Regions from separate parts of the Homo sapiens genome. Here region 2 is linked to region 1. Evidence: fine-mapped expression QTL. A gene starts in region 1. The other region holds a variant in brackets. All regions are shown on one strand. Distances are from middle to middle.

Evidence for each region. PIP is the estimated chance that this variant, and not a neighbour inherited with it, causes the effect.
Region 2: its variant is the best candidate, but not a certain one, in a credible set for the expression of CASP10 in whole blood (TOPMed, PIP 0.69).

The regions. Positions count from the first base shown.
Region 1 is chr2:201,180,922-201,186,302 of GRCh38, forward strand. It overlaps CASP10 (caspase 10), which reads left to right and starts at 2,220. Exons shown (of 10, transcript NM_032977.4): 1 at 2,220-2,387; 2 at 4,850-5,203. The coding sequence starts at 4,857.
Region 2 is chr2:201,209,645-201,215,025 of GRCh38, forward strand. The region is part of intron 9 of CASP10 (caspase 10); the gene reads left to right. It also overlaps the pseudogene MTND5P25, the pseudogene MTND4P23 and the pseudogene MTND4LP13. Among named protein-coding and RNA genes, the nearest start is that of CASP10, 29 kb to the left of the region's middle. The variant G/A (reference allele first, on the strand shown) is at 2,655.

The DNA.
Region 1 (5,381 bases):
TTTATAATAAAACAACTAAATAGAAGACCAAGACTTACGGCTTGTCTTTCTTCCTTTTTAAGTTATTTTCCAGAAAATAATATTTATATTTTAAGTTAAAGTAACTGCAAATTGGAAACCACAGGGGGAGCCCCAGGCTGGGACAAATAATGACTAGCCTGGTCCCAACAGAACAGGCAAAGAAGGTGGTCCCTACACTCTTTATGGTCAGTTGGGGCCCCCTCCTCACTCTGCTGCAGCATTCTAGGGTCAGGGCCCCACCTTCCCTGGAACTGGGGTAGTGAGTAACCCAGCCTGCTGTGCTCCGGCCCCCCTTTCCCAAGAAGGTTTTTTTTTTTTTTTTTTTTGAGAGAGTCTTTCTCTGTCGCCCAGGCTGGAGTGCAATGGCACGATTTTGGCTCACTGCAACCTCTGCCTCCCGGGTTCAAGCGATTCTCCAGCCTCAGCCTCCTAGTAGCTGGGATTACAGGCATGTGCCACCAAGCCTGGCGAATTTTATGTTTTTAGTTGAGATGTGGTTTCACCATGATGGCCAGGCTGGTCTTGAACTCCTGACCTCAAGCAATCTGCCCACCTCAGCCTCCCAAAGTGCTGGGATTACAGGTGTGAGCCACTGTGCCTGGCCAGGACTTGTCTTTTTCTTTTCTTTTTTTTTTTGAGAAGGAGTCTTGCTCTGTAGCCCAGGCTGGAGTGTGATGGCGTGATATCCGCTCACCGCAACCTCCACCTCCTGCCTTCAAGCGATTATCCTGCCTCAACCTCCCGAGCAGCTAGGATTACAGGTGTGTGCCACCACGCCCAGCTAATTTTTTGTATTTGTAGTAGAGACAGCGTTTCACCATCTTGGCCAAGCTGGTCTCGTGATCCGCCTGCCTCAGCCTCCCAAAGTGCTGGGATTACAGGCGGGAGCCACTGCACCTGGCCCCAGGACTTGTCTTTCTTAAGCACAGAAGTTCTCTGAATGATGCCTAGGACATGGAAAGGACATTTTAATACATTTGCTAATCAAAGCATCATAAATCTTGCTTTTTTTCCCCATAGATAAAACATCTTTCTAAGACTCTGTACCTCTTTCCAGAGTGCTGCACATTTGAGTTAGCTTAATTATAGTGTAGTGACTTTGATCCAAACTTGCTGGTTTAAATCTTGGCTCTTCCAGCCGCTCACTGTGTGACCTTGGGCAAATTAATTAACCTTTCTGTGCCTTAGTTTTCACATGTTAAAGCAGCAGTCATAGTAATAGTATTTATCTTACAGTGTTGTTGGGATGGTGAAATGAGTAAATATTTGTAAATGCCCTGGCACATGGTAGTTGCAATATTAGTGTGCAGTATTGTTTTTATGATTAGAAATAATGTCTTCAAAGTCTCACTTTCCTGCTGGTTTGAATGTGCTGTGAGAACACATACTGTCAGTTTTGCCTACCACAAATTTGTTGAGTCTCTTGCAGGTACCTCCAAATGGGCTTGTAATTCACCATCCCCACTTTTCTTTTTTTTTTCCTTTCTTTTTCTTTTTATTTCTTAATTTCTCCCACAAAGACTGAAAGTGAATCCCCACTTTTCTTTTATCTTTTAAAAATTTTATTTGTGGGCCGGGCACGGTGGCTCCATGCCTGTAATCCCAGCACTTTGGGAGGCCAAGGAGGGTGGATCACAAGCTCAGGAGTTCGAGACCAGCCTGGCCAACATGGTGAAACCTCGTCTCTACTAAAAATACAAAAAATTAGCCGGGCGTGGTGGCGCATGCTTGTAATCCCAGCTACTCGGGAGGTTGAGGCAGGAGAATCACTTGAACACAGGAGGCAGAGGTTGCGGTAAGTGGAGATCGCTCCATTGTTTATTTGCATGTGGACATAAGAAAGGGTTAACATGGCCGACAACTATTTCATGAGCTTTTTGGCTTTATTTGAAAAGTGAAGTGTGTTTGGGGAAGGAGTTGGTTAGGAAAACAGATGCTTCCCTTTTTGACTTACCAAGGAAATGGAGATCCAAAGGAAAGCCTGAAGCACTTTGTGGCTTCCACGGGTTCGTTTCTAGGAAGCTTTTGCTTTACCTGGGGAAACCCCAAGCTCTACAGTGAGAAAGTTGTAAATTAGCCTTTAGGAGACGCTGTTTGTCAAAGTTATCTTAACCCTGGAAAAGGGGAGGGAAAAAGGCAGATAAGCAGTGATGACATCAGCAGGAAACTAGTATCAGGCTACCCAGTCCTGAAGATTCAGTTTTCACTTAAACAACCAGCAAGTCTTGAAGTCTCTTCCCAAGCAAATGGGAGCTTCTTTGGACCTTGGAGCACACAGAGGATTCTACTTTCTTTAAAACTTTGTTTTCAGGCAATTTCCCTGAGAACCGTTTACTTCCAGAAGATTGGTGGAGCTTGATCTGAAGGTATGTAATTAACAACCCTTCTTACTCCAGAGTCTCATGCTTGAATCTTTTCCTTTGCTTCATGGCTTCGTGTTGTAGAAACTTGCAAAAACTTGTCAGCAATGGCACTATTTTTTCTTAGATTTCTTTGTCATGCCTGGGAAAACAAAAGTTAAAAAATCCGGAAGCCTCCAACATAGCCTTTTACCGGGGCAGAAATATGTTAGCTCACAGAGACAAAGTTTGGTAGACTCACTAAAACTAGAGATCAGAATTGTCAAGAAACCACAAGGCAAATGCTAGATGCGGTAGAATAGAAAGGTGTCTCCAATAAACCACTCATTTGACCTCAGGGCTAGTAGCAGGGAAGATCCCCTGGATTATCACATTAAAAATGACATTTTTTTGTTTCTTTTAACACCAAAAGTAATGTGTATGCTCACATATGCATAAAATTTGAGAAATTCAATTGGAAGCCCAGAAGGAAATTTGTATTATCTATAGTTATGTCACCTCGATATAACCACTGTTTGTTATGGAGGTTTTGATTTTTGCTGTGTCTTCCTTCCTTTATTTATTTATTTATTTATTTATTTATTTATCTATTTATTTATTTGAGACGGAGTCTCCCTCTTTCACCCTCCAGCACTCAAGCTGGAGTGCAGTGGCACAATCTTGGCTTACTGCAACTTCCGCCTCCCAGGTTCAAGCAATCCTCCCATCTCAGCTTCCTATGAAGCTGGGACCACAGGCATACACCACCAAGCCCAGCTAATTTTTGTATTTTTTGTAGAGACGGGGTTTCACCGTGTTGCCCAGGCTTGTCCCGAATTCCTGGCCTCACAGTGATCCACCTGCCTCAGTCTCCTGAAGTGCTTCTCTGATTATAATGAAATTTAGTATGTAGAATACCATAGTTTATAGACTAGTCAGATGGAAACATTGACTCATGTAATTTTTATCTTCCTTCGCTGATTTGAGCAACTCTTGTCTAAAATCACCCTTTCCTTCTGAGGTCTAGGAGGTTTTTTTGTTGTTGTTTTGTTTTGTTTTTGAGGCAGGGTCTTGCTCTGTCACCCAGGGTGGAGTGCAGTGGCACAATCATGGCTCACTGGAACCTCCATCCCCGGGGCTCAAATGATCCTTCTGCTTCAGCCCTCTGAGTAGTTGGGACCACAGGCGTGCACCACCATGCCTGGCTAATTTTTGTATTTTTTGTAGAGATGGGGTTTTACCACGTTGCCCAGTCTGGTCTTGAACTCCTGGCCTCAAGTGATCCACCCGCCTTGGCCTCCCAAAGTGCTGGGATTATAGGCGTAAGCCATGACACCCCACCTGTTCCTTCCTTTATAAAGTATTTTCTTGTTTCTAAAAATAGCCAAGTTCTGCATATTGACTACATACCTCAAGTGCTTATAGAATAAATAGTATTACAATGAAAATTTTATCACTGCATTGCTCCTCTGATTATGATGAAATTTAGTATAGAGAATAGCATAGTTTATAAACTGATCAGATGGAAACATTGACTCATGTAATTTGTTTTTTTTTAGTGAAAACAAGTTTATTAGAGAAGTAAAGAAACAAAAGAATGGCTACTCCATAGACAGAGCAGCCGACTCATGTAATTTTTAACTTCCTACACTGATTTGAGCAACTCTTGTCTAAAACCACCCTTTCCTCCTGAGGTCTAGGATATTTTATTTATTTATTTTTCTTTTTGAAACAGGGTCTCACTCTGTCACCCAGGGTGAAGTGCAGTGGCATGATCATGGCTCACTGCAACCTGTGCTCCCCAGGCTCAAATGATCCTTCCATCCTCGGCCTCCTGAGTAGTTGGGACCACAGGCATGTGCCACCATGCCCTGATAATTTTTTGTATTTTTAGTAGAGACCAGGTCTCGCCATGTTGCTCAGGCTTGAGGTCTAGGATTATGCCTTCCCTTTCTGTAAGATAAAGGCCTGCCCTCTTACAGGTAGCAGTCTGAAGTTAAGATGTAACACACATACCTCACGGTACCTTGCTGTCTTTGGGTTGATAGATCATAAGGATAACCCTGCCTCCCCCAGATTGCTTTGTGTCTAAAACTTAAAGCATAGAGCCAAGTGCTATTTCTGCCACGTGCTGGAAATGAATGTAAGGGCTCCAATCAGGCTACCAGGCTTGAGAAAAATTGTGCTGTGTCCCTCCATCTTAACTTTCTCTCTCTGGGAACATTTTGATTTGGGAGAAATCAAGGTGAATTGAATTCCAATATAAGCACCCTCCAAGTTTCCTAAAAAGTAACTTGCAAGTGTTGGGGAAAAGTTTTCTGGGCTGTTGCTTTTTGAAGTAGCCTCGCCGTAATTTTTATTTTTCAGCACTTCTAGGAAAGTCTAATGCCCAGAACGGAGAAGGTTGTGGTGAGGGGAGGGCCTGGGAAGTCAGGGGGCCATATGTCCTCACTCTCTAACTCCCTGCCCCACCTCTCTGTCCCTTTCAGGCTGGCCATGAAATCTCAAGGTCAACATTGGTATTCCAGTTCAGATAAAAACTGTAAAGTGAGCTTTCGTGAGAAGCTTCTGATTATTGATTCAAACCTGGGGGTCCAAGATGTGGAGAACCTCAAGTTTCTCTGCATAGGATTGGTCCCCAACAAGAAGCTGGAGAAGTCCAGCTCAGCCTCAGATGTTTTTGAACATCTCTTGGCAGAGGATCTGCTGAGTGAGGAAGACCCTTTCTTCCTGGCAGAACTCCTCTATATCATACGGCAGAAGAAGCTGCTGCAGCACCTCAACTGTACCAAAGAGGAAGTGGAGCGACTGCTGCCCACCCGACAAAGGGTTTCTCTGTTTAGGTGAGGACGGGTCTGTGGTGGAGATGGGAGGATCTCCCATCTAGTGTTCATTCTGGCCATTGGGCTTTGAAAGGAAGCTGCAGTTAAGATCTTTTGGTTATCTACCTCCTTGGATGATAAACCAGGAGATTCTAAACCTCCTTCTCAGCCTCTGATGCTAATGAGATAAGAGTTGGGA
Region 2 (5,381 bases), 29 kb after region 1:
AGGGTGAGAGTTCTACGTTGTTCTATCCATGTACCTGTTCAACCATCTGCCTACCCTCCTGTTTATCTATTTATCCATCTATCCACCCATTCATCTATCCATCCATCTATCCACCCATTCATCTATCCATCCATCCATCTGTCCATCCATCCATCCATCCAGCAACCTTGTATTGAGTACCAGCCTGGACCTGGAAAGGAAGATACAGAGTTAAAAAAAGACAGAGTCCTTGCCCTCAGGTTGCTTACAAGCTAGAGGGATAGACAAACAAATAGACGGGGAAGGGCATCCCCAGCTGGTAAGTGCACATTGTGAAGTATAGGTGTTATGGGAACATGCAGAATGAGTACCTTGCCCAGATTTGAAGGATCAGAGGAGGCTTCTAGAAATGACAAATAGATGTTAGGTAAAGAATCAGGTGAAAGATGTGCTGGGCAGAGGGAATAGCATGAACAAAAGCATGGGGGCCTTTTATTTGTTCGTTTATTTATCACTCACTCTTACGTCCTGAGCACCTATGTGCTATCTTTGGACTTCTATTTGCCACTGCTCTGACAGCTTCCCTTCTGTCTCTGCCACATGCTGTCCTCTTGGCACCTTTAGCCATACCTAGAGGCCATGGGCTCCTCCATGAAAACGTCTCCAAAGTTGCCATCTCTGGCCCACTCATCTCTGAATTCCTGGGGGCAGAGACCCTGTTTCATTCAACTTTATATCCTCAGCCCCTGACCTGATATATTGTGAGCTTGTTAAACATTTGCTGGGCCAATGAATGACTTGCTTGAGCCTGTCTCATTAACATCCCGCTAGATATCCTACCTCTGTTTAGCCCTTGGACCTCACATTCAGCATGCATGTTTCTGAGCTCATCTTCCCAGCTCTCTCCAGGAGCTCCTACTCCTGAATTTCCATTTGAAGGAATGGCCATAGTGCTCTTCTGGGAATTCAGGATTGGAACCTTGAGTCAACTTTGCTTTTCTCTCTTCTTTACCAGCCCCTCCATTCTCATCACAGACATCAGAGGCTAATGTCTATGGCTTCAGGAACAAGGCAATATTTATTGAGAGCGTACTATGTGCTTACTGTACTGGGTACCGAACTGGGGACAGGGGGTGCAACTGTGTACAAGAGAGACAAAATCTGCTCTCCAGGGAGCTAAAAGTCCAGTGAAGGAAGGACAGATAATAAAAATATAAGTGAATATTTAAATTATTATTATTTTAAAAATTCAACAATATTAAAAGGAGACAGTATACATGCATGATTAAGCAATGTGTGGTTTTTTTTGGTACTCCAGAAATTTCTGTTATTTTTAATTGATACTTCATAACTACATATTTCAGGGTTATAATTTGATGTTTCAATACATATATGTGTTGTATAATGATCAAATCAGGGTAGTTAGTGTATCCATCACCTCATGCATTTATCATTTCTTTGTGGTGAGAACCTCTAAAAGCCTCTCTTGTAGCTATTTTGTAATATACAACACCTTACTGATTGATCGATTGATTTAAATATGGGATCTCACCATGTTGCCGAGGCTGGCCTTGAACTCCTAGGCTCAAGCAATCTTCCTGCCTTAGCCTTGTAAGTAGCTAGGATTATATGCTCAAACCACAGTGCCCAGCTCAGAATGCCTTACTGTTAACCATAGTCACCCCACTGTGCAGCAGAACACCAGAGGTTATTTCTCCTATCTAATTGTAACTTTGTACCCATTGACTAACCTCTCATCTTCCCTTCCCTCCTTCTCTCTCTCATCTTTGTAATTGCTGTTCTAATCACTGCTTCTATGACATCAACTTTTTAAACAAAGATTCCACATGAGTGAGAACAAGCAGATTTTTTCTGTGTCTTGCTTATTTCACTCTGGGCTCATTCATGTTGTCAGACATGTCAGGATTTTCTTTTTTTATGGCTGAATGGTATTCTGTCACGTATAAATATCACATTTTCTTTATCCATATATCCATTTTTGGACCCTTAGGTTGATTCCATATCTTGGCTATTGTAAATAATGCTGCAGTAAACTGGGAGTGCAGATATCTCTCTGACATATTGATTGCATTTTCTTTGTTTATATACTTAGTATGGGGATTGCTGGATCATATAGTATTTTTATTTTTCATTTTATGAGGAACTGGCATACTATTTTCCATAATGGCTGTACTAATTTTCAATACCACCAACAGTGTGTAAGTGTTCCCTTTTCTCCAGATCTTTGCCAATATGTGTTTTCTTTTGTTTCCTCGATAATAGCCATTCTAACTTGAGTGAAGTAGCATCTCACTGTGGGTTTTTTATTTTTATTTTTATTTTTTTTTAGACAACATCTTGCTCTGTCAGGCTGGAGTGCAGTGGCGCAATCTCAGCTCACTGCAGCCTCTGCCTCCTAGGTTCAAGCAATTCTTCTGCCTCAGTCTCCCGAGTAGCTGGGATCACAGGCATGTGCCACCACGCCTGGCTAATTTTTGTATTTTTAGTAGAGACAGGGTTTTACCACGTTGGCCAGGCTGGTCTGGAACTCCTGATCTCAAGTGATCCACCCACCTCAGCCTCCCAAAGTGCTGGTATTACAGGCGTGAGCCACGGCGCCCAGCTGTCACTGTGGTTTTGATTTGCATTTCCGTGATGATTAGTGATGTTGAGGG[G/A]TGGAAGCGGGTAAGTAGGAAAACTCCCACCACAACTATAGTGCTAGAGTGAAGTAGGGCTGAGACTGGGGTTGGGCCTTCCAAGGCGGAAGGAAGTCAGGGGTGGAGGCCAAGTTGGGCTGATTTTCCTGCTGCTGCTAAGAGAAAACCAATTAATGGAAGAAGGTTGGGGGTAGGGTTAAGGATAAGTATTTGTTGAGGCTCTCATGTATTGGATGATGAGAGGAATCATGCTATAGCTAAAATAAAGCCAATGTCACCAATGCGATTGTATAGAATTGCTTGGAGGGCTGCTGTGTTAGCATCTGCTTGGCCATGTCATCAGCCAATTAGTAGAAAAGATATAATTCCTACACCCTCTCATCTGATAAAGAGTTGGAAAATGTTGTTGGCAGTAACTAGAATTAATATTGTGGTGAGGAAAATAAGTAGGTATTTGAAAAACTGATTAATGTTCAGATCTGCCTTCATATATCATATTGAGAATTCTATAATAGATCAAGTGATAAATAGTGCTACTAGAATAAACATTATGGAGAATTAGTCTAGTTTGAAGCTTAATGAGAGTTTTAGGGTTTGGATTGTTATTCAATATCAGTTTGAGATGATGGTTTCTTGGTCTGTACACATAAATGTTGTGGGAATGAGGCTAATGGTGAAAGTGCATGCGACAGCTATTTTTACATAGTATGGATATGAGTTCTTTTTGTGAGGGTTGATAAAGGTAATAATAATTGGTAAGGTTAAGGAGATTAAGGTTATTATAGTAATGGAAAAATACATGATTATTACTTTTATTTGGAGTTGCACCAATATTTTTGGTTCCTAAGACCAATGGATAACTCTCATCCTCTAAAAGTTGAGAAAACTATGTTGTTAGGCATGGAGGCATGAGTTAGCAGTTCTTGCAAACTTTATCGGTAAATAAGAAGTTGCGGACTTCTATTATTAGACCACAATCTAACATTTTGATTAAACTATATTTACAAGGTATAAGTCCTATAATAATTTTAGGATTTAGAGATAGTAAGAGAATTGGTGAAAGGTGTATGAGTATTAGTATGTTTTCTCGTGTAAAGGAAGGTTTAATGCTGTTAATATAGTATGTTAGTGTTCCTTGTTGTGTTGTGACAAGTATATAGAGGGAATAAAGGGCTGTGATTAATATATTAAGTCCTATAAGCATGATGGTAGTGTTTGATCAGGAGAATGAAGCCGTTGTTACAAGGAGTTCTCCTACTAGATTAATAGTGGGGGGTAGGGCAAGGTTGGTGAGATTTGCTGTAAGTCATCAAAAGGTTACTAGTGGAAGTAATGTTTGACGTCCTCGAGAGAGTAATATGATTCAGCTGTGGATTCACTTGTAGTTTGAATTTGCTAGGCAGAATAGTAGGGACGAAGTAAGTCCATGGGGAATTATGAGGATAATTGCACTGGTAAAACTTCAGGGGGTTTGAATGAGGATAGCCACAGTAACAAGTACCATGTGGCTTACGGAGGAATGTGCAATAAGTGACTTTAGATCAGTTTGTCGTAGACAGATGGAGCTTGTCATAATATGCCTCATAAGGATAATATCAGGAAAGGATAGGCTATATGTTCTGTCAGAGGGCTGAGGATGAGGGTAAGTCGCATTTTGTGTAGCCGCCCAATTTTAGGAGCACTGCTGCAAGTACTATTGAGCCAGCCTTAGGTGCTTATACATGGGCTTTGGGAAGTCATAGGTGAAGTCAGTATAGGGGTATTTTTACTATGAAGGCCATTATACATGCCAATCACATGAGATTGTTGGATCAGGAGATTGGTAGTTCTTGATATTAAATGTTATTATTATCATGCTCAGTGAGCCTAGGATATTTTGGGCATAAATAAGTGTAATAAGTAGGGGGAGGGATCCCACTAGTGTGTAAAATAAGAGATATGTACCTGCATTGAGGCGTTCTGGTTGGTTACCCCATCGGGTGATAATAATTAAGATAGGGATAAGTGTAGCTTCAAAGAGAATATAAAATATAATTAGTTCTGTGGCTGTAAATGCTATGATTAGAAAAATTTGTAGGGAAATTAATATGGAAATACAGGGTTTTTTCCATAGGGGTGATTCACTGGAGAGGTGGTACTGGCTTGCTATAGTTATAAGAGGTAGTAGTCAGGCTGTTAAGATTAGAAGGGGTGATGTTAGCGGATCAGAGGAGAAAGTTAATGAGAAGTTGAATAGATTGTCGTTGAATTAGTTAAAGAATAATAGGGCAATGAAGCTGGTGATTAGGCTGTGGGTAGCCATATTGATTCAAATTGTATAATTTTTAGAGAGTCATGTTATTGGTAGTAGTATAATTGTAGGAATAGTTATTTTTAGCATTGAAGTAAATTTAGGTTATGTATGTAGTCTAAGCCATATATGTTGGAAATTGAAAGTAGCAAAGCAAGGCCTACCCTGGCTTTGCAGGCAGCAAATACTGGTAGAGTAATGGGTATTACATTTGCTAGGGTGAAGTGTATATTTAAAGCTATAAGGGTATTTACTATGAATAATGATAATATTATTCCTTCTAGGCATAGGAGGGATGATATTAGGTGGGACTGATAGACTAATACCCCCAGAAGTGATATGATAAATGCTAATATGATACTTATGTAAATAGAGGGCATTTGGTAAGTATGTTCTATCATAATCTAATGAAATCATTTATTTTGCCTTAAACTACTTATTTTTTTCTTATACCT